Regions from separate parts of the Homo sapiens genome. Here region 2 is linked to region 1. Evidence: fine-mapped expression QTL. A gene starts in region 1. The other region holds a variant in brackets. All regions are shown on one strand. Distances are between the middles of the regions.

The links.
Region 2: its variant is fine-mapped to the expression of RNF181 in whole blood (INTERVAL, PIP 0.97).

What each region holds. Positions count from the first base shown.
Region 1 is chr2:85,591,066-85,603,018 of GRCh38, reverse strand. It overlaps RNF181 (ring finger protein 181), which reads right to left and starts at 7,274. Exons shown (of 5, transcript NM_016494.4): 1 at 7,170-7,274; 2 at 6,370-6,500; 3 at 6,088-6,197; 4 at 5,841-5,915; 5 at 5,311-5,574. The coding sequence starts at 7,255. The coding sequence ends at 5,515. VAMP5 (vesicle associated membrane protein 5) reads right to left here. Exons shown (of 3, transcript NM_006634.3): 2 at 11,157-11,294; 3 at 9,613-10,071. The coding sequence ends at 9,862. TMEM150A (transmembrane protein 150A) reads left to right here and starts at 321. Exons shown (of 8, transcript NM_001031738.3): 1 at 321-412; 2 at 955-1,135; 3 at 1,537-1,584; 4 at 1,912-1,998; 5 at 2,607-2,674; 6 at 3,001-3,128; 7 at 3,317-3,494; 8 at 3,702-4,472. The coding sequence starts at 1,071. The coding sequence ends at 3,943. It also overlaps a transcript of USP39 not described here. RefSeq lists silencers at 112-691, 792-851, 7,243-7,382 and enhancers at 9,326-9,825, 9,826-10,327.
Region 2 is chr2:85,963,520-85,979,793 of GRCh38, reverse strand. It overlaps LOC105374843 (a long non-coding RNA gene), which reads left to right. Exons shown (of 3, transcript XR_940318.3): 3 at 1-673. Among named protein-coding and RNA genes, the nearest start is that of ST3GAL5-AS1, 82 kb to the right of the region's middle. The variant T/C (reference allele first, on the strand shown) is at 8,425.

The DNA.
Region 1 (11,953 bases):
ACGGCGACAATCCCAGGTAGAGCTGGAATGCAGGCTGCCCCGAGATCCCCACCTGCTGACGCTTCCCCGGCAGGAATCGGTTAAACGGAACCTCTAGTCATCTCGGTTTTAGAGCGGTCTTCACGCCACAGCCCTCCGCGCCCAGGTCCTCCGAAGTTGGGACACCGCCCACGTTTCCCCCGTGACGCGGGCGCGGGGGCTCGGGAGTTGTAGTCTCGGGCAGGGCGCGGGCACCGAGGCCGGGGCTGCGCGGACTCCACGTCCCGGCGGGCGGCGCGGCGAGGCCTGGGGCCTCCAGGGGCGGGGCCGCTCGGCCCTTTAAACCTTTCAGGGCTGCTCCGAGGGCCGCAGCTAGAGTCGGCGCCACGAGGGGGCCGAGCAGGGTGCGGCGGCGGCGGGGCGCTCCGGGGAGGTGCGTACTGGGCTCCTTCCCTTCCTCCGGGCTTCCAGGAATCACCTGGGGACTCTCGCGTCCCGGGTCCTGGGGGGTCGCCGGCCGCAGGGTCCGGCCCCAGCCGGGGTCCCCGCGCCCAGGCGAGCGGGGGCCGGGCCGGGCTGGGCTTTCCGCGTGAACCCGCCCCTCGCCCAGGGCGCCGATGGTCAGGTGGTTGCCTGCGCGCCGCCGACTCGCCACCGCTCCACTGGGCCGGCACCCAGCCTCTCCTTGGCGTGGCCTCTTCGGTTGTCCAGCCCTTCTCCCAGCCCTGGTCCCTCAGAAGGAGGGTAACTCCCTTCCAGATGTTACGGTCCGCCTGCGTCTCTCAGCACGCCGGTGGCATTTGGGTTGACCGCGGAGGCCCCCAGTGCCAGAGGGTGTTCACGTTCTGCCGTGGGCTCAGCCCAAACTTTGGACGCTCAGAGACCCAACGGGAGCGCTGGATAAGGTGTTGACCCCCTTCCCCTCCCCCTTCCCGGCCAGTTACCCACTCCTGGACTTTGATCTCTCTCCACCAGGCCAGGACAGCTGATGGTTGTGGCAGAAACATCTCAAGGTAGCTGGTCCGCCCCCACTTCCCCATCTACCTCTTGTCCTCCCCCCAACACCACCACCACCCTGGCTCCCCTCCCTCATGACCGCCTGGATCCTCCTGCCTGTCAGCCTGTCAGCGTTCTCCATCACTGGCATATGGACTGTGTGAGTAAAGGGGGGTGCCCGGGGGGCAACAGGAGCTTGATGACGCACACAAAGTCTCTTGTCCTGTCATAGCCACGGTGGTACCCAGGGTCACTCTGGGTGTCTCAAAAGCCTGACTTGGTGCCTGGGCACACAGCCCCTTGGGACAAGCTGGCACCACTGCTGTCCAGCAGGGTGGCCCTGACAAATATACTTCTAGCCAGGGCAATTTCCAGAGGGCCTGTAGCTGGGGGCATGCTGCAGGTGCTGGTGTGGCATCAAGCCTTAGGGACCTCAACTTGAGTCCCCAGCAACAATAATGAGGCTGAATGGGGCCAGAAATCAAGGTTGAAGAGAAGGGTCATGGGGTGGGTTGAGTGGGGCTCGGGAAGGCTGCCAGGGTGACAGTTCTGTTCCCACAGGTATGCCATGGCTGTGATGAACCACCATGTATGCCCTGTGGAGAACTGGTATGAAGGACTCTGCAGACAACCTTGCTCTAAAGCTTCCTTCATCTCTGTCCCCTCTTGGGCCTGAGGCTGCCACGAGCCAGACTGCAACCCTGAGCCTCACTGCTCTTCTCTGAAATTGGTCCCCAGGCATGGCTTCTTGCCACCTACCCACTTCCCACTATCCCTTTGCCCCTTTGGTTACTGCTTCAGGCGGGCACTGGGGAGTGGGATCTTCTGTCCCTGTAGGGGAGGTCTGGGAGAGAGTCCTCTTTGAGGCCTGAGGCTATAGGCCAAGGGCCTGGGGGCAGTCCCTTCCCCCAGTCTACTCCCTGTCCTGCCTGCCAGGTCCTACAACGAGTCCTGCCCTCCTGACCCTGCTGAGCAAGGGGGTCCCAAGACCTGCTGCACCCTGGACGATGTCCCCCTCATCAGGTAAGGCCTGGACATTGGGCCGGTCAGGGAGATCTAAGGGCCTCCCAGACAGCCCCTCAAGCAAAGAGCTGTCCTTGGGTCTCAGGAACAATAAGTATCCTAAGAGCCACTTAATAACAACACTACTTGACAGTTACTGTGGGGCAGGCACTCTGCTGAGTGCTTTATATGCATTGTCTCTTTTCATCCTCCCAGGAGTGAGGCAGGTATTGTTTTCACCATTTTATAGGTGAGGAAACAGGCTCAGTCTTCCTCATCCAGGTCACACAGCTAATAAGCGGAGGCACCTGGATTTAAGCTGGAGCCCTCAGATTGCCCAGCCCGTGTTCTGGCTCAAGGATAGCCAAACCAGCCGCAGGGCTCAGCAAAGAGTGTCAGGGTTGCCCGAACACTCCTGGGCACTCCCTTCTCTCTCACACACATGAGCTCTGCTTTGGGGGCCCAGCCTGGAACCAGTTGTTCATGAGGGACCCTGGATCTTCACATAAATCAGTGGCCTGCCTGCTAAGGAGCAGGTGCAGGTAAAGCAGGGGAGAGCCAGTGAGCCAAAATGGGGGCCCCCCGGGCCTCCTGCACCCCTCTTACTCTGTCCTTCCCCCTCCTCGCAGCAAGTGTGGCTCCTATCCCCCAGAAAGCTGCCTCTTCAGCCTCATTGGCAACATGGGTGCTTTCATGGGTGAGTTGTACCCTTAGCCCTGACCCTGCGTGCCCAGCCCAGTGATCCCCACACAGAAAGGCCCAGGAAGCCCTTCTGTGCAGCCCTCCCCACCAAGGGCTAAGGCAATAGAGGCAGCTTCTCCCCTTCCTTGAAGGCCAAAAGCTGACTCCCACACAGCCACCCTGCTGGCTGGAGCCTGAGGAAACCTAGTTCACCACCCGCCTGTCTGTTCCTTTCTGCCCCTCAGAAGGGGCAGGAGCACCACAGCGTCTGGGGGAAGCTGACAGGCTCGCTGGGCAGGGCCAGGGCTGGAGGAAGGCCTCAACTGTGCTCTCCTCCCCCAGTGGCCCTGATCTGCCTCCTGCGCTACGGGCAGCTCCTGGAGCAGAGTCGGCACTCTTGGGTTAACACCACGGCACTCATCACAGGCTGCACCAACGCTGCGGGCCTCTTGGTGGTTGGCAACTTTCAGGTGCTTCCCCTTCTCCCCTGCAAACCTTAAACTTTACCTAACAAGGCCTGGCTGCCTGCAGTGTGGCACCTCAAGGTTGGGGCTGGAAAGAGGGAGAGGAAGGAAGAGGGAGAGAGGAGATTCATTGAAGGAGGGGTGGAGAGGTGGGGCCATGGCCACATCACCAACTGGCCCTTCTCTGGGCCCAGGTGGATCATGCCAGGTCTCTGCACTACGTTGGAGCTGGCGTGGCCTTCCCTGCGGGGCTGCTCTTTGTTTGCCTGCACTGTGCTCTCTCCTACCAAGGGGCCACCGCCCCGCTGGACCTGGCTGTGGCCTATCTGCGAAGTGTGCTGGCTGTCATCGCCTTTATCACCCTGGTCCTCAGTATCCTTTCAGGACGGGGCAGCCAGGAACTCATCCTCTAGCTCAACCTTTCTCCCTCCCAAGAGGATGGGGGGTGGAGGCCTAACACTGCCATGTGGGGGAGAGGACTAACACCTCTCCCTTTGGAGAGGTGAGGCCTGAGACTGCAGAAGGGGTGTTGCCAGGTTTCCGTATGTCCTACTGAACATTTCCTTAGCCTCGTTTTAGGTGGAGTCTTCTTTGTCCATGAGAGTTCTCAGCTGCAACATGGGGCAGCCCTGTGTGAGTGGGTGTGTGTCATCGATATCCTCATTTTCTATGGCACCTTCAGCTACGAGTTTGGGGCAGTCTCCTCAGACACACTGGTGGCTGCACTGCAGCCTACCCCTGGCCGGGCCTGCAAGTCCTCCGGGAGCAGCAGCACCTCCACCCACCTCAACTGTGCCCCCGAGAGCATCGCTATGATCTAAGGTCTGGGGAGGGTGGCTGGCCCGGCCTCCACAGCACCCCACCCCATATCTTCTTTCCATTTATTTCGTACCAAAAACAATTTTGAGAAAGTATTCTGTTGGGATCTGGGCTTCCTCACTTCTGGAGAAGTGGCCATCCCATGCCCACCTGTGCCATGGAGGAGTGGGCCCTGCCAGCTGCCACAGCTGCATGACCTGCTTCCCCACCCCACGGTGTCGTTTTGTTTTTAAAGGTCACCTGTCCTCACTCACCCAGCCAGCCCTTCAGGTGCCTTCTACTCCCAGTGCCAAAGCCAGACCACTGGGGTTTCCTGCTGCAGGAATTGGGGGCTGGGAACAGCAGAGGGGATAGAAGTCTGGTGGAGGTGGAGTGGGCACGCCTTAGCCTACGGAAAGGCCCATTTCTGGGCCCACTGAGCTGCACTGGGATTCTTCACTCTGCCCCTCACTTCCTTTAGGGCAAATAACACAGCAGAACCACGTGGGTATTTTAGTACTTTTTTTTATATTAAAAGAATTCTAATTTGCATGTTTGTAGCCTGTTCTGGAGAGTTGGGGGGCCTGATCTGGGATGGCTTTCCATAAGCCAAGGATGGGAGGAAGCCCTTGCCCCCCAGGAGTGCTGAGTGCACTCTGTTGCCAGAAACAAAGGATGCCAGGTGCCACCCAAATACCCCTTCAAAGGGCTTGAAACCCTTCTGGGCCTCTAAGCAATCTAAAGAACTAACTTGGTCTGATAATCTCACCCATCCCCCACTCAGAGTCTGGTTTGAACTTTGATTCCTTAGGAGGCATGGGGGGAAGGTGGGGGTGGTACAGAGAGCAACTTTAAAATATTAAAAGTGGCTTTCTCAATGGAGCAAAAAGAAAACCTGTGGGATTACAAAGTTAACTAGACATTGCAGTGGGAGGAGGGTGCAGGCTAGTTTATCAGCTTTTTTTTTTTTTTTTTTTGAGACGGAGTTTTGCTCTTGTTGCCCAGGCTAGAGTGCAATGGCATGATCTCAGCTCACTGCAACTTCTGCCTCCCAGGTTCAAGCAATTCTCCTGCCTCAGCCTCCCAAGTAGCTGGGATTACAGGTGCGTGCCACCATGCCCAGCTAATGTTTGTATTTTTAGTAGAAACGGGGTTTCACCATGTTGGTCAGGAAGGTCTCGAACTCCTGACCTCGTGATCCACCTGTCTTGGCCTCCCAAACTGCTGGCATTACAGACATGAGCCACTGCACCCAGCCTAGTTTATCAGCTTTAAGTAATTAACTGGGTACCAGACCCTGACACATTTTGCCTTCCAACCATGAACACATAGGCCCAAGCCCTGGCTATTGCAGTAATCCAGTTCTTTACCACTGCCATGAGTCCAGATGGGCCAGCAGGGAGGAAAACCGCAGCCTGGTGCCTTCTGCGATTTAGGATCACCTTCCCCAACAGAAGTAGAGACCTGATGGAGGATGCAGAGCCCCTGGCCAGGTCTGTGATCAATACAGCCTCAGGGTGGGTAAAGAAACCTTTAATGAGGATTCAAGGTTAATAAGGAAGACGCAGAGGGCCAGCACTCAGCCCCAACCTCCTCACGTGTACATGGCTCCATGGAGGTTCTCCAGTCGGTGTTGCTGCTGCTGTTTTCGAGCCTGAAGGAAAGAAGGCATGCTGGGCAGGGGCCAAAACTGAAGGCCTATGGGTGAGGGGATGGGCAGCTATTATGGGGCTGGCTCTGTTTTCAGGCCTCTGGCGTCTGCATTGCTGAGGCTCTCACCACAAATCAAAGTCACTAAGAAGACAGCCAGAGCCAGGGATTCTGAGGCCTACCCAGTCCTGCTGAGGTGGGAAGTGATGGCAGCGGGGACAGGACTCAGGGAGCCCATTACGACCCCTCCACTTAAGCATCAGCCCCTACCTTATCTCGTCTGTGCTCCTCATAAGTGTCGTCATCAGTGGGCAGCTCATAGCGGCACAAGGGACAGGAATTTGTCTGAGAAAAGTAGAGTAGTGTTCTAGCCTTGGTCTGATCTTCATAAGCTGATAACCACCCTCCCCTGCTCCCAACTGCCACTCTTCTTCCATCCCCCAGCAGTCCATGAACAGAAAGAAGCTTGAGTACTGGGCCCAGGGCACGGTGAGAGCTAGAAGAAGAGAAGCAGTACCTTGCTTAGCCAGGGCAGAATGCAGCTGGAATGGAAAAGGTGATGGCAAGGCATCTCAATGGCAGTCTCCTCCTCCTCAAATTCCAAAAGACACACGGGGCACTTGAGCTCTTTAGGAAGGAGTGCTGATCAGGAGAGCTGCTACAGGCTCTGCCTCCCAAGCTCCCACTCCTGAAGGACACTTGCCCCCACCTGACCTGGAAAACTGAAGGACCAGACCACAGTCTGGCTTGGGGAAGGGGTGGGTCTGGCCCAAATAGCAGAAAGAATCAGTGTCCTCACCAGCCTGAGAGCCTCTGATGACTGTCCTGGGGAGGTTCTCAACCACAGTCTTGGCAGCTGGTGGAGGCAGGTGGTGGTCCCAATCTACTACCAACCCCAAGTCTTCAAAGTCCATCCTATTGAAAAGTGACCTGGGGAAGGGGATGTAAAGTCAGAACAAAGGAAAACTATGCTTTTTCTTTGTCCCCATAATCCACTGGACATTAATAAACACGCTGCCCAGCTAGTAGGAATAATAGCTACCCTTAGTAGTTAGTAGATGCTCACTAGATAAAAAGCACGATGGGAAATAGTTTACAACTGCTATCAGACCGCCCCAGCACGTAAAGTGTTTATTCCCATTTTACACATGAGGCAACAGATTCAGAGAAGTTACTCAGGCTACGCTGAATAACCTGGTAGAGCCCAGATTCCAAGACCAAGCCAGATTCCAGGTCCAGTAACAGCAGTGCCTGCTGTTACTGATGAATATACCCACTCACAGCACACGGCCCCAACCCCGCCCCCATGCCTCACCTTCTCTGAGACCTCCCAGAGCCTGCTGTCCTTCCGCCCCCACGCCCACCACTCTCCAGCTCCAATCTTTCCCGCAATCCCCTTGCCCCAGGCCGGCCCAACGGACGGCCCAAATTATCGAGATGCTCATCCCCACACCCCTCAGTCTCGCCGCCCGTACTAACACTCCAGATTACTCATCTGTCCTCCCCAGAATCCGCTGCCCCTGGTAATCCGCCTTCTCCAGCCAGCCCCAGCCCAGAAACCTGCTGGTTGGACCCTATCCCCAAGCCCCGCGCACCCACCTTGCGAGCTCCAGCAGCATGTTGGTTCGCGTCTCCTGCTCAGGGTCCGACGGCTCGCAGTCGTGTTCATCGAAATAGGACGCCATGGCTGCCCAGCCTTCTGACACAGCCCTCGGACCCTGCTCGATAGCGGCCTAGCGGCGCTGGCCAATAAACTGACGAGCTGAGAGAGGCTGGCCAATCAGAGTATCCGAGGGACGGGCATAGTGGCTCGTTAAACAGCACGGAAAGCGGAAGTACTAATTCGGCCCCCTCTCATTGGCTTGAACAAGTCAGGTGACCAGAGACTAACGCCAATGATGGAGATCTGGCTGGTGAGGAATCATTTGTTTTGGAGTCGGAGCCAAGACTGAATTCCCGGGGATTTCTGGCGCGATCGCGTCCAAGTGTCTGGTGTGTAAGGCTCTTCAGTCTGCCCTGAAGCTCAGAGGGCTTCGACAGTACAGATGCTAGAGGCCTCTGCGAGCAAAGGCGGCGCTGGCCCAGGGGTTCAGGTTCCTGCGAGCGTTGGCCCATGGCGCTTCCGGATGCGCTGTCCGGATCCCCGCCGGACACTTCTGCCCCCGCGGCCCTCTAGTTGGTTCACCAGTTTGCGTTTGATTCCTGCGCATTTCTTATGTGTTAGGCATAATAATAAAGGGTGGGGCAAGCCTCCCCAACTGAGAGAGATCTCTTTGCCGGAGAACCTGGGGCCTCAACCAGCTCATGGGACTGTTACCTTCAGCCCGTTGCTATCCCTAGCTTCTGTAAAACTGCTGGCTTGTACTAAGACCTTTTCATTCCTGGCTACACATGAATTCCCAGAGGAGAGAATGGGCGCGGAGGAGCTTTAGAAACACCCGTGTCTGATACCTTCGAAGATTCTGATTTAACTGATCTGTGGTGGGGCCTGGGCAATGGCACTTGTATAAATTATGCAGGTGAAGCAGGTTTAAGAACCACTGCACTCAATGATTTGGATGATAGGTACTATTTAGCATCTAGAACTGTTAGTCTGATGTATGTTTTACACGCTCGATCATCCCCTCAATAGACCCAGGAGCTAAGCGTCATTATGCCCTTTTTACCTCAGAAGTGGCTTGCCCAAATTTGCAGTCTGTAAGTGGTGTTGCAGACCAGCTGCAGGGCCAAGTGCTTTCCTCCATCTTTCCCAAGAGAGGAAGACGCTAATGCGCTCAGTAAAACTAACACGCTCTGTAAGGGGTGAAGCTCCACACAACTCAGGCTTATTCTGGTTTCTGTCAGTAGCGCTCACTTTACCCAGCAAGGAACTGCTTATTTTACACACTTGACCCTGAATTCCCCTTGCCACTCACACCTGAGTTTGAACTGCAGCTAAGTAGCCCAGGCAGAGGCTGCCCTGTTTCCACAGTCTTGGTGTGGCTTTATTTCCTTCTTCCATGCCTTTGCCCAATGATCTTTGCTATGGCCCTGAAGGCACTGCCTCCCTGGCCTATATGGCCCTGTAGCTTTGAAAAGCCTGAATTCAGGCTGGACATGGTGGCTCACGCCTGCAATCCCAGCACTAAAGGCAAGAGAATTGCTTGAGCCCAGGAGTTCGAGACCAGCCTCGGCAACATAGACCCCGTCGAAAGAGGGAGGGAGAGAAGACACAGGAGAGACCCCGTCGAAAAAGGAAGGAAGGGAGGGAGGGAGATGGGAATACCAAGGAGTGCTTTAAGGTCCCCATCTCTTGCTGTCACTTCCCCCATCTGCAGTCTGATGTAAAGCTTGAGGTAGATAGAATGTGGAAAGAGAAATTGAGGAGTGGGAAGTGTTCAGAGGGGAAACCATTTATCTGAAGGTGAGAGCCTTATGAAAAATTTTTTGGGCCAGGCGCGGTGGCTCATGCCTGCAATTCTAGCACTTCGGAAGGCCGAGGCAGGTGGATCACCTGAGGTGAAGAGTTCAAGACCAGCTTGGCCAACATGGTGAAACCTTGTCTCTACTAAAAATACAAAAATTAGCCAGGTGTGATGGTGGGCACCTGTAATCCCAGCTACTTGGGAGGCTGAGGCAGGAGAATTGCTTGAACCCAGGAGGTGGAGTTTGCAGTGAGCTGAGATAGTGCCATTGCACTCCAGCCTGAGCAACAGAGCAAAAACTCTGTCTCAAAAAAAAAAAAAAAAAATTGGTGAAGTGCTTTCTTCTTTGTCATCGCATCTACAGTCTCATTGGTCCTCTAAGCATCCCCAAGATGACAGAAAAATAATAGATTTCATTCTCAGAGAAACAGGCTCAGATGGGGAGGACTGGTTCAAGGGTCTGCTTTGGGGGCCATTGTGTTCTTGCATCCACACTCCCTGTCTGTGTCGGGCTGGATCAAGTAGGGAAGGGAGAGGAAGGAGCCATCTCCCAGGGGTGGAGTCCTTTGGGTGATGGGCTTTTTAAGCAGCCCTAGGGGTAGAGACAGATGGGATTAACCAACCTGGGGACCTTCACACACAGATACCAGCTTTTAATCAAACAGCAGTTTTTACTGAGCTCCAGGTGGGGCTGGCCCAGCATGGCCAGTACAGCAGGCTGCCCTCAAGGGCCAGTCTGTGGCATGACAGGAAATGCAGGGGTGCACATGTTGGGGCTGCCCTTTGGCACTCACTGGGGTGGGTCAAGGGAGAGCAAACACCAAGGTCCTCTGGAGACCAGAATCGGCCAGTGCAGCCATTTGGCTTCTCCTTCAGGACCAGCTGGGTCAGTTCCCAGGCCCTGAGGCAATGCCTGCATCCTGGGTCCGTGGGGCACTACTGCTGTCACTGCTCTGAGGGAGAAAGACGACCAGCAGCACAATCAGGATGATGAGCAGGACACCAACCACCACCAGCCCCACGCAGATCCGGTAACGGATGTTCTCCCAGCACTTCTTCTGGGCCAGGTTCTGTGTAGTCTTGTTGAAGGTTGAGCTCTGCGGATACCCCCAGACACAAAGTGGGAGTTAGCTGGCACCCTCTTGGCCTGGGAGCCAGCTCCTCCCAACCCCATCTCAGTAAGGCTTAGTCTCCTCCTGCATCCTCCCCATCTTGTCTACTTTCTTTCTTTTTTTTTTTTTTTTGAGAAGGAGTCTCTCCCTGTCACCCAGGCTGGAGTACAGTGGCACAATCTCAGCTCACTGCAACCTCTGCCTCCCGGGTTCAAGCAATTCTCCTGTCTCAGCCTCCCTAGTAGCTGGGACTACAGGTGCACACCACTGCGCCCGGCTAATTTTTGTATTTTTAGTTGAGATGGGGTTTCACCATACTGGCTAGGATAGTCTTGAACTCCTGACCTTGTGATCTGCCCACCTCGGCCTCCCAAAGTGTTGGGATTACAGGCGTGAGACACCGCGCCCGGCCTTGTCTGCTCTCTTTCTATACCACCTGCCGTGGAACCCTCCCAGCCTGACTCATCTCAAACACCGGTGTGGCCCTTGACTTTCAGCCCTAGTGTCTCACCCTCAGTTAACAATGCCAGTACTCAGGCTGGACACAGTGGCTCATGCCTGTAATCCCAGCACATTGGAAAGCCAAGGTGGGAGGATCTCTTGGATCCAGGAGTTCAAGACCAGCCTGGGCAACATGGTGAGACCTCATCTCTACAAAAAATCAAAAATTAGACAGGCATGGTGGTGCAGGCTTGTAGTCCTAGCTCTTCAGGAGGCTGAGGCAGGAGGATCACTTAAGCCTGGGAGGTAGAGGCTGCAGCAAATATGATTGTGCCACTGTACTAGCCTGGGCGACAGAGTGAGACTCTGTCTCAAAGTAAAAAAGAAACAAAAAACGATACCAGTTTTCTACCTTTAAGAAGGTCCACAGCTTCAAACCAAGGCCTTCTTATCTTGTGGGGTCTATCTGTTGCATGTCTAGGCTATGGGTGCCTGAGGAAACCCAGAGGCCCCACACTGGCCCTCAAGAAGGCCTCAACCCCACCAAGGAACTGGAGATCCTGAATACAGCCCAAGAGAGACTTTCCCAATCCTCTCCCCTCCCCTCCATGCTCCCCCAGGCCTCACACCATATCCAGGAGTTGGTCTGAACGCTGCTGCAGTTCGGCCAGCTTCACACCACGCTCCAGGACCTTGCCGAAGTTGTTACGCATAATTTCCGTCACCTCGTTCGCCTGCTGCTGGCACCGCTCCAACTCTATTCCTGCCTGGACACCAAGCCCGAGGTCAGGGCTGCATGAGGCCCCCACCTGGCCCTCATCTGCCCCTGAGATCTAGAAGCCTCCTTCTCCCCCTGTAGGTGGGTACAGCATGAGAGTAACAGCATCCTTCGTGTAAGGGTATGATGTGTGCGGAGTGAAGGTCTGGCCTTCGGGGTGAGTGCGGCACACCTTAAGTCTCACAGGCTCCTCCCCTTGCACGTCAAGGCAGGGCCTAGGACCTAGGTAAGTCCCGGCTTCCAGCACCTCAGCTTCCTCTAAGCTGTCCCAAGGTGGGATCTTCCCAGGACCCCACCCTCCCACAAAGCTGATTCTTTTCTCACCTGCTCCAGAATGGCGTCTACCCAATCAATGCACAGCTGCCCTAAGGTTTCCCACTGGCCTAAGAAGGCAGCAAAGAATGGGTAACCAAGCTACCTGGCTGGAACACACAGGGAGGAGACCTACCCTACAGGCTAGAAAGGTAATTTTGAAGCAGCACACATCATAGTCTCTGCCTAACCCCTCTATCCCCAAACTGAGAAGCTCAGATCTTCCTCTTTGGGCCTCTGACTGGTCAGGCCAGTTCTGCCTCCTGGCCTGATCCTGCTCCCTATATCACTGCTCCAACTTCCCTCTCCGTCTGGGAACCTCAGTGGTACCGGTTT
Region 2 (16,274 bases), 370 kb before region 1:
CAAATGGTTTGGAATCAGCAATCAGTACTGAAGAGGTTATTGACCCCACCCTAGGGCTGAGGTATGAGGGCAGGAGGGAGAACAGCTACCACTTGAACACCCGAGCTCAGGTGATCCACCCACCTTAGCCTCCCAGGTAGCTGGGACCACAGTCTGGAAAGGGGATGTTAACAGCTTCACTAGGACACTTTTTGAGTCTTGAACTCAGTTTCTCAGATTACATAATTTCACTTCCTCCTAACTTGTTTGAGAGGCACCACTTTCTGAACCTGCATCTGATGCTGACATTGGGAATTATAACCCAAACCACAATTACCCATTCAAATAACATTTGGACAGTTTTCCTCCCATTTACCCAGGAGATATATATTTATAATCTTCAAGTTGCATTTTAAAATGATTTTAAAAAGCCTTATTTACAAAAACATGCAACTCTTTTCATTGTGAGGTCATATCCCTAGGGAGACTTACTAAATCTGTGTTCAAATTTCTTTGCCGATTTTTTCACCACTGTCATCAGGTGACCTTTATAAACATACAAACTAGCATTGACTGAGGTCATTTCAGGTGACGGCATCTCAGACAGCTGTCATTACTTAAAAAGATGAATTAAAAAAAGTGGAGGGAGGAAAGGTGAAAGAGAAATGCAGAAAGAGAAAAAAGAAAATAAAAGAGAGGAAAAGAGAAAGAGGAAAGAATGAGAAAGAGAAGGAAGGAAAGAAGGAAGAGGAAAGAGGGGAAGGAAGGAAAAAAGGAAGGAAGAGGAAATAGGGGAAGGAAGGAAGGGAGGAAAGAAGAAAGGAAGGGAAGAATAGAGGGAGGAAGTGAGGGAGGGAGAGAGGAGACTAAGGTTTCTAATATAAGACTACATGGAATTAGTCTTTTCTGAGGGATAATTTTCAGAAAAATAAACAAACAAAAAACCCTTGGCTCATATTCAGTCATCTCTGGTGCCATCTTTTCAGTCATAGTGTCTAGAACAGTGCCAATGAATGTTTCTGGAATGAATTAACTGATTGCTATTGTCTTCTAGCCCTAACAAAGATTTCTCCATGACCCTTAGATCCTTGGACCCCTGGTCCTAAGAGAAACATCACCCACCTCATGCCCCCATGCCTGGCTTTTGCTTGGCTACTAAGCTCCATCTTGCTTCTTTTTTCTTCCAACATGTGTATTCAGAAGCTCTTGGCTTTTATTAAATGCAACTCTGCTGCTAATACATTACAGAATTTAATCTTGTGCCAGCCACACCCTGGCACTGAACCCAGCTGGGCAGGGGGCCAGATTTGAAGTGAGGTTCTCCCTGCCAGTGATTAAGTTTGGTTAAGAGGTGAGATAGTCACTGCCAGATGCAAAAACTCCAGGAGGCATTTCCAGCTGCATGTAGAACTCTGTAGTTTCTGCCTCTGGTGATGGAGTTTGGGGGTCATCTGAATGGGGAGTGATGAGAGGTAGGAGCTGAAATAGAAAGATGCGGCCGGGCACGGTGGCTCACGCCTGTAATCCCAGCACTTTGGGAGGCCGAGATAGGCGGATCACGAGGTCAGGAGGTTGAGACCAGCCTGACCAACATGGTGAAACCCCGTCTCTACTACAAATACAAAAATTAGCCAGCCATGGTGGTGTGCGCATGTAATCCCAGCTACTCGGGAGGCTGAGGCAGGAGAATCACTTGAACCTAGGAGGCGGAGGTTGCGGTGAGCCAAGATCATGCCACTGCACTCCAGCCTGGGTGACAGAGTGAGACTCCATCTCGGAAAAAAAAGAAAAGAAAAAGAAAGAAAGAAAAAAGAAAGATGCAAATAAAACAGAGGTGAGGACAGCAGCGGGTGAGGAGTGGGTCTTCGATGTTGGTAGAAACTTCTCTAATCTTTTACACCTCTAACTCTATCTCCCTCCTGAAAGCCCTCATCTGGCCTGGAATTGGCTTTGAGGGTTGTACCACTATGCATTTTGATAACACATGATGAGTTTTTAGATCAAAGCACACTAGGGTAGTTGTTGTTGAATACATGCATGGCTAATTCTATAGCCTCCTGTGGGGTCAGGTTACCCCCAAGCCCTGTGCCTCAGCCATGGGACACATGGCGATGGTTGTGGATGGATCCTCATGCACCATTCCCTTAGCTCTTGTGTTCGTAATAGAATCCTTATTTGAGAACCTGGGTCCCTATCAGTACAAGTAAAAGGAAAAGAAGAAACACCCAGAGTGAGATTCTTCAGGTAGCTTTGAGGATGCCCAAGGTGAAACATTAATCAATCAATAACAACATGATGGAGAGGCAGGTGTTCCCTCTTCTGTACCCCCTTTCCTGGAGTGTGGGAACTACTGAGGCTCTCACAATGCAACTCAAGGCTAGGGAGGAGATAGATACCATTTTGTTTTTGTTTTGGTTTTGAGACGGAGTCTCACTCTGTCGCTCAGGCTAGAGAGCAGTGGCATGATCTCGGCTCACGGCAACCTCCGCCTCCCAGGTTCAGGCAATTCTCCTGCCTCAGCCTCCCAAGTAGCTGGGACTACTGGTGCCTGGCCACCATGCCCGGCTAATTTTTGTAGTTTTACAGAATTTTTTTTGTAGAGATAGGATTTCACCATGTTGGTGAGGCTTGTCTCAAACTCCTGACCTCTGGTGATCCACCAACCTCGGCCTCCCAAAGTGCTGGGATTACAGGTGTGAGCCACTGCACCTGGCCTAGACATATACCATTTTTGAATAACAAGGTATAGTAGAAACGCCAGCGGGAAGTTTACTCTTCATAGGTTGAACACGTGATGTTGCAGATGCATTACCTCAATGCTGATCACCACGAGGGCTAATGAAATCCAAAGGAACTTTCTGCCAGCCCACTCGTCACTCCCCCTGCCCACTAACCAGTCATGCAGACAGAAATGGCTAAAAAGGCCCCAACATCCACACCAAAGACTGGGCACAGAGGCTAGTGCTTGAAAAGGACCAAAGGGCAGAGGTGCAGAGAGAGTGGGAAGGAGAGAACCTGGCGGAGCGAGGGTGATCTTTGCTAGTGAAGGTGGCCACACACTTAGTCTTCCAGATGGGTACATGGTCACGGAGACACATTCAACAGGGCAGAAGAGCCACAGCAAACCCTGGCTGTGTGGGTTTTCTATGGAGAGGGCTTGAAGCGAGGCTTCTGGGGGTTCCCTGTGTGACCAAAAGACCAGCTACCAGAAAGGCTGCTTGGCATGGGTCTGGCACTGCCTTCCCTTCCCAACAAGGGTCAAAGGAGGGGCTACTTCAGCCTATGCTGAATGCTTCCTAGGTGCCAGGTGCTCGAACACACATAATCCCCTTGGCAGAGAGAGCCCAGTCACCATCCAAGGTCCCAGGGATTAGACACCGGGCCTGTCTGACTTGGGTCTGTGGTCTTCCTATAACACAGGAAAATGGCAGCAGCTGACAGGCTTCTTGTTTTAAGCACTGGCTGGGGTCCACCTCTCTTCTGAGGCTGCTTCAAGCCCTGCCAAGGTCCTCCCAACAGAGCTCGGTCATGCCAGATATGAATTCGTTTCACACCCCTCTGATCTTTTCCACGCTGCCAAACACACTGCATCCCTCCTTTTCACTTAGGCATTCTGTTGAAGGTGAAAACAACATGTTGGAAGAGGGCTGTGAGAGGAATGAGGGAACACTTATTTTAAAATGAGATTTACCCTGTTCAGCCCTACTCAGTCCTTGGAAATGAACTTCAGCACAGATTAGAGGTCTCTTTTTGGAAAATGGCAAAATTACAGAGACTGGTCCACTCCTATGTCCTCTTACTGGTCCCTTGGAATAGTACTTTTCAAACTTTACTGTGCCTAAGCATCCCCTACAGAGCTTCCTAAAACTCATATTCTTGGGCCCCATCCCCAGAGACTCTGATTCAGTGGGTCTGGGTGGGGCAGAGGCAGAATTGTCAGTTTTGACAAGCTCCCAAATGATGCAGATGCGAATGGTCAGCGAAGTGTGTGTGGAGTGCCCCTGCCTTGTGGATGTCACAAATGAACCTTTTCTAGGCACTGGCTGGATTTGTCTGCCAGTGCTGGAAGAGTGGTGAACTTTCTAGATTGCCCTGAGGGCCCCTGGGAAGTGTGGCTCCCTCGAGTGTTACTAACACCCAGGAACATCAAACGGTCCCCAACTTTCTCTTCCTCCCACTCACTTGGTGGGGAGAGAAGGACAGAAGATTGGAAAGAGAAGAAGGAAGCACTAAAATAAACTTTGCCTACTGGTGATTGTGCTGAGACCATTCCTGCCAAGAGAATGACTAGAAACAATATTTGCGTTTGATCCAGATTTGAAGATTTGAGGTTGGACACGCATATCAGTTTCCTTATTTGTAAAACCCGGATAAAACTACGACCTTGAAGATTCTTGTGAGGAGTAGAGTCACAGCTGGTGAGGGTAGCACCAGAGCCAACATCTGGTTTCTCAGAATCTCAGGTCAGTGCGCTCATGAGCACACCAATGACAGTGGTGCCCACAGAGTGAGCACCCACCAGGTCTAGGCATTGCATAAATGGCTCCACAGATGATGTTCCAGTGAAACCTCACAATACCCTGACAAAAAAGATATTGTTCTTCTCATATTACTCCTGAAGAAACCCAGTATTAGAGATTAAATAACTTGTCCAAGGTCACAGGGCCAGAGGTGGGATCCAGATCTCACTCACACTGTGGCTGTTACCACCTCACAAACCCCAGGGATCCTCCCACCAGTGCCCTCAAAAAACCGTCAGGTTGGCTGCAGCCCAAATAGGGCTGAGAGTGGGGAGAGCTGGGGTGTAGAACCTGCTGTCATGAAGCTATGTGGACTAGGGCAAGCCATTTTCCCTATCTGGACCTCAGTTTCCTCATCTGTAAAATGGTGTCTAAGTGCCCTTCCAATGCTGATATATAAGGACTCCACTACTTTTTCACTAGGGCATTGGTACCAAGTTGAGTTCCGTAAGATTCTCTCATTGCCAGCATGCCATCTCCAGGGTTCCAGCAGTCAGTAAACCAGGTCCCAGGGAACCACTTAGACTCTTGTACCCCTCAGGCTTAAAGAGGAGGGGCCTCTATAGATCATCAACAAAGACAGCTGCAAGTCAGAAAGCAGGAAGGTCCAGGTGAGCTGCTGGCTCAAACTAGGCAAGTACGTGGGGTGGGTCCTGTCATGTCTTTTCCTTGACATTTAAAGAAGGGAATATGAGCACAGTAAGGTATGTACTCTGTACAAAAATGTTTCAACACTATTTCTTCATAGATGACATAGTTAAAGAGACTGGATCCAGCTGCCAGGCTGAGTGCATACAACCATTCAATGTCAACACAACCTTCTTACAAGGCAGAACAAAGATTTTATTTTAATTTAATAGAGAACACCCACCATTAGCATGACATTTACCACTAACACTTTACTTGCTTTATCACATATCTATTGATCTAGCCATTCACTAATCCATCTTATTTTTGATGGATTTCAAAGTAAATTGTGACTTCAGTACATTTCCCCCTAAATATTCAAGTATACAGATCACTAACTAGAATTCAATATTTGATATATTCTCTTTGATGTAAAATTTATATACAATGAAATGCACCAATCTTGCATATGTGTTAGCTGAATTTTGTCAAATGCATCAAACCTGCACAATGCAAACCCCCATGAAGACACAAAGAATTGCCATCACCTCAGAGTGTTCTCTCAAGCCCCTTCCTGTCATAGATTCTTCCCGTTCTTCATTAAAGATTTGTTTTACCCAGGACAGGTTTTTAAATTTAGTTTTATCGAGTTATAGTTTACATACAATGAAATTCACCAATTTTGTTTTTCTGGATGAGTTTTAACAAAGTTGTGATACAGTTGTGCAACCACCACCAGAGCCATGACATAACATATTTCCATCACCCCAAAACTTTCCCTCATGCTCTTCTGCAGCCAATCACCTCTCCCTCACACCTCGCCCCTGGAAACCGCTGATCTGCTCTCTGTCACTGTAATTTCGCCTTCTCTAGAATGTCACATTAATGTTACAATATAGTATGTAACCTTCCACATTTAGCTTCTTTCAGTCAGCCATATGCTTTTCAGACTTACTCATGTTGTTGTATGTATCAATAGTTCATTCTTTTCTTACTGAAAAGTAGCATTCCATTGTGCTTGATGTACATAATTTGCTTATCCATTCACCTGTTGATGAACATTTGGATTATTTTCTGTTTCTGGAACTCAAATCCCAAACGAATACAATATAGAAATGATATGGAGTGAGTCTTGGCTGGAAAGAATTAATCTCTGTAGTAACTCTTGTATGGGGAGTGGGGATAGACATCTAGACCAAGGATCAGCAAACTTATTCAGTAAAGGGCCAGATTACAAATATCTTAGCCTTCGTGGGCCATACAGTCTTTGTCTCAACCACTCAACTCTCCCATGATAGCACAAAAGCAGCTACATATATAAACAACTATATATATATCTAAAGACAATATAGAAACAAGTAAGTGTGGCTGTGTTCCAATGAAACCTTGCTTATGGACACTGAAATCTGAATGCTATATACGTTTCATGTGTCATAAAATGTTATTTGTCTTTTGATTTTTTTTAACCACTTAAAAATATAAAGGCCGAGTGCAATGGTTCATGCCTGGAATTCCAGCACTTTGGAAGAACAAAGTGGGAGGATCACTTGAGCTCAGGAGTTCAAGACCAGCCTGGGTAACATAGCAAAACACTGTCTCTACCCCCTAAAAATAAACAAAAACCAAAAACAAAAATTAACTGGGCATGGTGGTGTGTACCTATAGTCCCAGCTACTCAGGGGGCTGAGGTGGGAGGATCTCTTGAGCATCAGAGGTCAAGGCTACCGTAAGCCTTGATTGTGCCATTGCACTCTAGCCTGGGTGACAGAGTGAGACCCTGTCTCAATAATAAATAAATACAAATACAAAAAAAAATTCTTAGCTTCTAGGCTGTGCAAAAATGTGGAATAGGTGGGATTTTGTTACCAAAATACCAGGGGTTCAGTCTAGGTCCTGCTGCTCACAGCACAGAAAGCCAGTCACTGAGACAACAAGCACTGCCAAGGAAGAAGGCTTTAATTGGGTGCCAAGGAGGTGGGAGCTCAGTCTCAAATCCGTCTCTCTGACAAACTAAAACCTGGGGTTTATAGAGCAGGGAAGAAATGTAATGATGTGTAAAGAAACAGGAACCAGGGAGGGGCAAGGAAGCAATCATGATGAATGAGGGGTCAGGCATGTCATTGTCTGAATGTGGTGATCTGGGGAGTTTCAGTTCTTTGCTACTTTCTTGAGAGGCCTGAAGGTCTTTTCCTGAGGAAGGAACTCAGATAAAGCAAATGTAAACTTCAAGCTTTAAGATCAGAAAAGTCAATTTCTATGTTTATCCAAAAGAACAGTCTATGGGACTATTTGGTTGGTTTCAACTTGGCCCATAGGCTGTAGTTTGTTAATAGTCTAGATTACTTCAAAACATTTTAGAAAACTATGTTCAAGTACATGTCATCAAAATTTAATTATAACCACAAGAGGAATAGAAATAGGATATATAACTGCCAATCCGTAAAAGGAAAAACAATGGAATAACAACGATCACCTGAAGAAAAGATTAAAAAGTAAAAGAAAATAAGAAAGTATGATAAATAGAAGACAGAAAATAACATGACAGGAATAAATCTAATCGCATATGTAATAACAGTACTCATGAATAGGTTAAATTAGCCTATTACAAGACACAGAGTTTCAGTTTAGGTAAAGAAAATTTAAAAAATGAGCCACTGCTGTTGCCAAAAGTTATATCTAAAATGAAATTATACAGGATATTTGAAAACAAAGGTATAGAACTATATATGCTACCTAAATGCGTATCAAATATTATGTAATTGCTTCAAGGACAGGTAAATTGTTGTTTATTACATAATAAACAGCGAACACTAGGTAAATTGCTAGAAAAACAGACGTATCAATATTAACACCAAAAACAACAATTTGAAATAAAAAGCATCAAGGCCAACAGGGAGAGTTCATATTGATAAAAGTTGTAGTCCACCAAAAAGATATACTAATCATATGCTTCAGTGTACCTCAGAATAGAATTCTGAAATCTATTGAATGTATATATATATCAATAGAATATTATACTGGATAAATAGAAAGTACCCATTCTTTCAAGCATCTACAGTCCTTTTACAAAATGAGTCATGTATTTGACCACAAGGAGAATTCCAATACATTTCAAAAAGCATAAGTTATACAAACCTTCTTGTCTGGCCACTGCACAATAAAATTAAAAATTAAAAAGCAGCAGCCAGGCATGGTAGCTCATGCCTGTAATCCCAGCACTTTGGGAGGCTGAGGTGGGTGGATAACTCAAAGCCAGGAGTTCAAGACCAGCCTGAGCAACATGGAAAAACCCCATCTC[T/C]ACCAAAAATACAAAAATTAGCCAGTCTCATGACCTGGTCTCAAAAAAAGAAAAAAAAATTAAAAAGCCAAATGAAACATACAAGATAACAAACATATACATATATATATATATATATATATATATATATATATATATGTATGTATGTATGTATGTATTTTCCCCCAACTGGAAGTTCTAAAGCAACCTCTAATGCAGCAGTCCCCAACATTTTTGGCACCAGGGACCAGTTTCAAGGAAGACAATTTTTCCATATATGCAGTGAGAGGGCTGGTTTCAGGATGAAACTGTTCTACCTCAGATCATCAGGCATTAGATTCTCATAAGGAGCATACAACCTGGATCCCTCGCATGTGCAGTTCACAATAGGGTTCGCACTCCTATGAGAATCTAATGCTGCTGCTGATTTGACAGTAGGTGGAGCTCAGGTGGTAATGCTCATTCTCAGGCTGCTTGCCTCCTGCTGTGTGGCCCAGTTCCTAACAGGCCACAGACTGCTCCCGTCTGCGGCCTGTGGGTTAGGAACTCCTGCTCTAACATTACTCTTAAGTTAACATTACTCTTAAGTTAAAGAGGAAACCGTAAACTAGAAAGAAGTGACCATCAGAAACCCTGTTTTAGGGGCTTGTGGGACATGGCCCAAGTGGGACTCAGGATAAGTTTATTAGAAACAAGTAGGGCTAACACTAAATGAAAGAGCATGAAATCAATAGTCTAGAATGAAAAGGCAGCAAAATAAACTCAAAGAAAGTAGAGGGATGGAGTATAAAAATCAGCAGAATTTAATGAGGTAGAACACTCACAGAAAATATGAACTTAGTTAATAAAACAAAATCTTGATCTTTGAAAAGACCATTACTATTTACAAATCTAGTTAAAATTCATTTTAAAATATATTTAAATTTAAAAGATAATTAATGTTTGAAATGGGCAAGAAAATACAACTATGGATATTTTTTAAATATTTCCAAAGATGATCAAAAAGAAATTGTTAATTTAAAAAATTGAAAACCTAGATTGAAATACAAAATTTTCTAAGAAAGTGTAAATTACCAATTTTTTTTTTTGTAGGGACTATGCAATGAGATTTTGCAGCAGGGAAGAGAGATTGGGTTCAACTCTCAAAATTACCAAAATGAACACAAGAAGAGACAGAAAACCTATATAGGTCAATAAACACATAAGAAATTAGAACAACTGTCAAAGTTCTTTTTCTAAAAAAACACCCAAACAGACTCAGATGGTTTTATTTGTGAATTACATCTAATTTTCAAGGGTCTAATACTTTCTATGATATATGAATTCTTCCAGAGTATAGGAAATAATCAGAAATCTACAAAGCTAAATACCAAACTGGAAAGCATAGCATATGTGCCAGTTGGGTGCCACAAGAGGCAACTGGTTTTTTTTTTTTTTGTCTTTTTTTTTTTTTAATATACTTTAAGTTTTAGGGTACATGTGCACAACGTGCAGGTTTGTTACATATGTATACATATGCCATGTTGGTGTGCTGCATGCATTAACTAGTCATTTAGCATTAGGTATATCTCCTAATGCTCTCCCTCCCCCCTCCCCCCACCCCACAACCGTCCCCGGTGTGTGATGTTCCCCTTCCTCTGTCCATGTGTTCTAATTGTTTAATTCCCACCTATGAGTGAGAACATGCGGTGTTTGGTTTTCTGTCCTTGCGATAGTTTGCTGAGAATGATGGTTTCCAGCTTCATCCATGTCCCTACAAAGGACATGAACTCATCCTTTTTTATGGCTGCATAGTATTCCATGGTGTATATGTGCCACATTTTCTTAATCCCGTCTATCATTGTTGGACATTTGGGTTGGTTCCAAGTCTTTGCTATTGTGAATAGTGCCGCAATAAACATACGTGTGCATGTGTCTTTATAGCAGCATGGTTTATAATCCTCTGGGTATATACCCAGTAATGGGATGGCTGGGTCAAATGGTATTTCTAGTTCTAGATCCCTGAGGAATTGCCACACCGACTTCCACAATGGTTGAACTAGTTTACAGTCCCACCAACAGTGTAAAAGTGTTCCTATTTCTCCACATCCTCTCCAGCACCTATTGTTTCCTGACTTTTTAATGATCACCATTCTAACTGGTGTGAGATGGTATCTCATTGTGGTTTTGATTTGCATTTCTCTGATGGCCAGTGATGATGAGCATTTTTTCATGTGTTTTTTGGCTGCATAAATGTCTTCTTCTGAGAAGTGTCTGTTCATATCCTTTGCCCACTTTTTGATGGGGTTGTTTGTTTTTTTCTTGTAAATTTGTTTGAGTTCATTGTAGATTCTGGATATTAGCCCTTTGTCAGATGAGTAGGTTGCAAAAATTTTCTCCCATTCTGTAGGTTGCCTGTTCACTCTGATGGTGGTTTCTTTTGCTGTGCAGAAGCTCTTTAGTTTAATGAGATCCCATTTGTCAATTTTGGCTTTTGTTGCCATTGCTTTTGGTGTTTTCGACATGAAGTCCTTGCCCATGCCTATGTCCTGAATGGTATTGCCTAGGTTTTCTTCTAGGGTTTTTATGGTTTTAGGTCTAACATGTAAGTCTTTAATCCATCTTGAATTAATTTTTGTATAAGGTGTAAGGAAGGGATCCAGTTTCAGCTTTCTACATATGGCTAGCCAGTTTTCCCAGCACCATTTATTAAATAGGGAATCCTTTCCCCATTGCTTGTTTTTGTCAGGTTTGTCAAAGATCAGATAGTTATAGATATGCGGCATTATTTCTGAGGGCTCTGTTCTGTTCCATTGGTCTATATCTCTGTTTTGGTACCAGTACCATGCTGTTTTGGTTACTGTAGCCTTGTAGTATAGTTTGAAGTCAGGTAGCATGATGCCTCCAGCTTTGTTCTTTTGGCTTAAGATTGACTTGGCAATGTGGGCTCTTTTTTGGTTCCATATGAACTTTAAAGTAGTTTTTTCCAATTCTGTGAGGAAAGTCATTGGTAGCTTGATGGGGATGGTGTTGAATCTATAAATTACCTTGGGCAGTATGGCCATTTTCACGATATTGATTCTTCCTACCCATGAGCATGGAATGTTCTTCCATTTGTTTGTATCCTCTTTTATTTCCTTGAGCAGTGGTTTGTAGTTCTCCTTGAAGAGGTCCTTCACATCCCTTGTAAGTTGGATTCCTAGGTATGTTATTCTCTTTGAAGTGATTGTGAATGGGAGTCCACTCATGATTTGGCTCTCTGTTTGTCTGTTATTGGTGTATAAGAATGCTTGTGATTTTTGCACATTGATTTTGTATCCTGAGACTTTGCTGAAGTTGCTCATCAGCTTAAGGAGATTTTGGGCTGAGACAGTGGGGTTTTCTAGATATACAATCATGTCATCTGCAAACAGGGACAATTTGACTTCCTCTTTTCCTAACTGAATGCTCTTTATTTCCTTCTCCTGCCTGATTGCCCTGGCCAGAACTTCCAACACTATGTTGAATAGGAGTGGTGAGAGAGGGCATCCCTGTCTTGTGCCAGTTTTCAAAGGGAATGCTTCCAGTTTTTGCCCATTCAGTATGATACTGGCTGTGGGTTTGTCATAGATAGCTCTTATTATTTTGAGATACGTCCCATCAATACCTAATTTATTGAGAGTTTTTAGCATGAAGGGTTGTTGAATTTTATCAAAGGCCTTTTCTGCATCTATTGAGATAATCATGTGGTTTTTGTCTTTGGTTCTGTTTATATGCTGGATTAAGTTTATTGATTTTTGAATGTTGAACCAGCCTTGCATCCCAGGGATGAAGCCCACTTGATCATGGTGGATAAGCTTTCTGATGTGTTACTGGATTCGGTTTGCCAGTATTTTATTGAGGATTTTTGCATCAATGTTCATCAAGGATATTGGTCTAAAATTCTCTTTTTTTGTTGTGTCTCTGCCAGGCTTTGGTATCAGGATGATGCTGGCCTCATAAAATGAGTTAGGGAGGATTCCCTCTTTTTCTATTGATTGGAATCGTTTCAGAAGGAATGGTACCGGCTCCTCCTTGTACCTCTGGTAGAATTCGGCTGTGAATCCATCTGGTCCTGGACTTTTTTTGGTTGGTAAGCTATTAATTATTGCCTCAATTTCAGAGCCTGTTATTGGTCTATTAAGAGATTCAACTTCTTCCTGGTTTAGTCTTGGGAGGGTGTATGTGTTGAGGAATTTATCCATTTCTTCTAGATTTTCTAGTTTATTTGCATAGAGGTGTTTATAGTATTCTCTGATGGTAGTTTGTATTTCTGTGGGATTGGTGGTGATATCCCCTTTGTCATTTTTTTATTGCGTCTATTTGATTCTTCTTTCTTTTCTTCTTTACTAGTCTTGCCAGCGGTCTATCAGTTTTGTTGATCTTTTCAAAAAACCAGCTCATGGATTCATTGATTTTTTGAAGGGTTTTTTCTGTCTCTATTTCCTTCAGTTCTGCTCTGATCTTAGTTATTTCTTGCCTTCTGCTAGCTTTTGAATGTGTTTGCTCTTGCTTTTCTAGTTCTTTGAATTGTGATGTTAGGGTGTCAATTTTAGATCTTTCCTGCTTTCTCTTGTGGGCATTTAGTGCTATAAATTTCCCTCTACACACTGCTTTGAATGTGTCCCAGAGATTCTGGTATGTTGTGTCTTTGTTCTCATTGGTTTCAAAGAACATCTTTATTTCTGCCTTCATTCCTTTATGTACCCAGTAGTCATTCAGGAGCAGGTTGTTCAGTTTCCATGTAGTTGAGCAGTTTTGAGTGAGTTTCTTAGTCCTGAGTTCTAGTTTGATTGCACTGTGGTCTGAGAGACAGTTTGTTATAACTTCTGTTCTTTTACATTTGCTGAGGAGTGCTTTACTTCCACCTATGTGTTCAATTTTGGAATAGGTGTGGTGTGGTGCTGAAAAGAATGTATATTCTGTTGATTTGGGGTGGAGAGTTCTGTAGATGTCTATTAGGTCCACTTCGTGCAGAGCTGAGTTCAATTCCTGGATATCCTTGTTAACTTTCTGTCTTGTTGATCTGTCTAATGTTGACAGTGGGGTGTTAAAGTCTCCCATTATTATTGTGTGGGAGTCTAAATCTCTTTGTAGGTCACTAAGGACTTGCTTTATGAATCTGGGTGCTCCTGTATTGGGTGCATATGTATTTAGGATAGTGAGTTCTTCTTGTTGAATTGATCCCTTTACCATTATGTAATGGCCTTCTTTGTCTCTTTTGATCTTTGCTGGTTTAAAGTCTGTTTTATCCGAGGCTAGGATTGCAACCCTGCCTTTTTTGTTTTCCATTTGCTTGGTAGATCTTCCTCCATCCCTTTATTTTGAGCCTATGTGTGTCTCTGCATGTGAGATGGGTTTCCTGAATACAGCATACTGATGGGTCTTGACTCTTGATCCAATTTGCCAGTCTGTGCCTTTTAATTGGAGCATTTAGCCCATTTACATTTAAGGTTAGCATTGTTATGTGTGAATTTGATCCTGTCATGATGATGTTAGCTGGTTATTTTGCTCATTAGTTGGTGCAGTTTCTTCCTAGCCTTGATGGTCTTTACAATTTGGCATGTTTTTGCAGTGGCTGGTACCGGTTGTTCCTTTCCATGTTTAGTGCTTCCTTCAGGAGCTCTTTTAGGGCAGGCCTGGTGGTGAAAAAATCTCTCAGCATTTGCTTGTCTGTAAAGTATTTTATTTCTCCTTCACTTATGAAGCTTAGTTTGGCTGGATGTGAAATTCTGGGTTGAAAATTCTTTACTTTAAGAATGTTGAATATTGGCCCCCACTCTCTTCTGGCTTGTAGAGTTTCTGCCGAGAGATCAGCTGTTAGTCTGATGGGCTTCCCTTTGTGGGTAACCCGACCTTTCTCTCTGGCTGCCCTTAACATTTTTTCCTTCATTTCAACTTTGGTGAATCTGACAATCGTGTGTCTTGGAGTTGCTCTTCTCGAGGAGTATCTTTGTGGCGTTCTCTGTATTTCCTGAATTTGAATGTTGGCTTGCCTTGCTAGATTGGGGAAGTTCTCCTGGATAATATCCTGCAGAGGGTTTTCCAGCTTGGTTGCATTCTCCCCATCACTTTCAGGTACACCAATTAGACGTAGATTTGGTCTTTTCACATAGTCCCATATTTCTTGGAGGCTTCGTTCGTTTCTTTTTATTCTTTTTTCTCTAAACTTCTCTTCACGCTTCATTTCATTCATTTCGTCTTCCATCACTGATACCCTTTCTTCCAGTTGATCGCATTGGCTACTGAGGCTTGTGCAGTCGTCACGTAGTTCTCCTGCCGTGGTTTTCAGCTCCATCAGGTCCTTTAAGGACTTCTCTGCATTGGTTATTCTACTTATCCATTGGTCTAATTTTTTTTCAAAGTTTTTAACTTCTTTGCCATTGGTTCAAACTTCCTCCTTTAGCTCGGAGTAGTTTGATCTTCTGAAGCCTTCTTCTCTCAACTCGTCAAAAGTCATTCTCCATCCAGCTTTGTTCCATCGTTGGTGAGGAGCTGCATTCCTTTGGAGGAGGAGAGGTGCTCTGATTTTTAGAGTTCCCAGTTTTTCTGCTCTGTTTTTTCCCCATCTTTGTGGTTTTATCTACCTTTGGTCTTTGATGATGGTGACGTACAGATGGGTTTTTGGTGTGGATGTCCTTTCTGTTTGTTAGTTTTCCTTCTGACAGTCAGGACCCTCAGCTGCAGGTCTGTTGGAGTTTACTCGAAGTCCACTCCAGACCCTGTTTGCCTGAGTATCAGCAGCAGTGGCTGCAGAACAGCAGATATTAGTGTATCACAAATGCTACTGCCTGATTGTTCCTCTGGAAGTTTTGTCTCAGAGGAGTACCCGAAGGTGTAAGGTGTCAGTCCGCCCCTACTGGGGGATGCCTCCCATTTAGGCTACTCAGGGGTCAGGGACCAACTTGAGGAGGCAGTCTGCCTGTTCTCAGATCTCAAGCTGCGTGCTGGGAGAACCACTACTCTCTTCAAAGCTGTCAGACAGGGACATTTAAGTCTGCAAAGGTTATTGCTGTCTTTTGTTTGTCTGTGCCCTGCCCCCAGAGGTGGAGCCTACAGAGGCAGACAGGCAGGCCTCCTTGAGCTGTGGTGGGCTCCACCCAGTTTGAGCTTCCCGGCCGCTTTGTTTACCAACTCAAGCCTTGGCAATGGTGGGCGCCCCTCCCCCAGCCTCGCTGCCACATTGCAGTTTGATCTCAGACTGCTGTGCTAGCAATGAGCGAGGCTCCGTGGGCATAAGACCCTCCGAGCCAGGTGCTGGATATAATCTCCTGGTGTGCCGTTTGTTAAGCCCATTGGAAGAGTGCAGTATTAGGGTGGGAGTGACCCAATTTTCCAGGTGCTGTCTGTCACCCGTTTCTTTAACTAGGAAAGGGAATTCCCTGACCCCTTGCACTTCCTGGGTGAGGCGATGACTCACCCTGCTTCAGCTCACGCACAGTGTGCTGCATCCACTGTCCTGCACCCACTGCCCGGCACTCCCCAGTGAGATGAACCCAGTACCTCAGTTGAAAATGCAGAAATCACCCATCTTCTGCGTCGCTCACGCTGGGAGCTGTAGACTGGAGCTGTTCCTATTTGGCCATCTTGGCTCCTCGAGAGGCAACTGTTGACTTGAAGTTAGGAATGCAAACAGTTTGTCACACCTGCAAAAGAGAAAAGGTGGGCTCAGGATTAGGTAAGAGAAGCTGTCAGACCAGGATACATATCTGACCAAGTATTTGCCAGGCCAACAAGAAGCCCCAGAGTTCTAGAAGCCATGCAATAAAATTATAAATCAAATTAGAGGCGGGTACAGTGGCTCACGCCTGTAATCCTAGCAATTTGGGAGGCCGAGGTGGATGGATCACCTGAGGTCGGGAGTTCAAGACCAG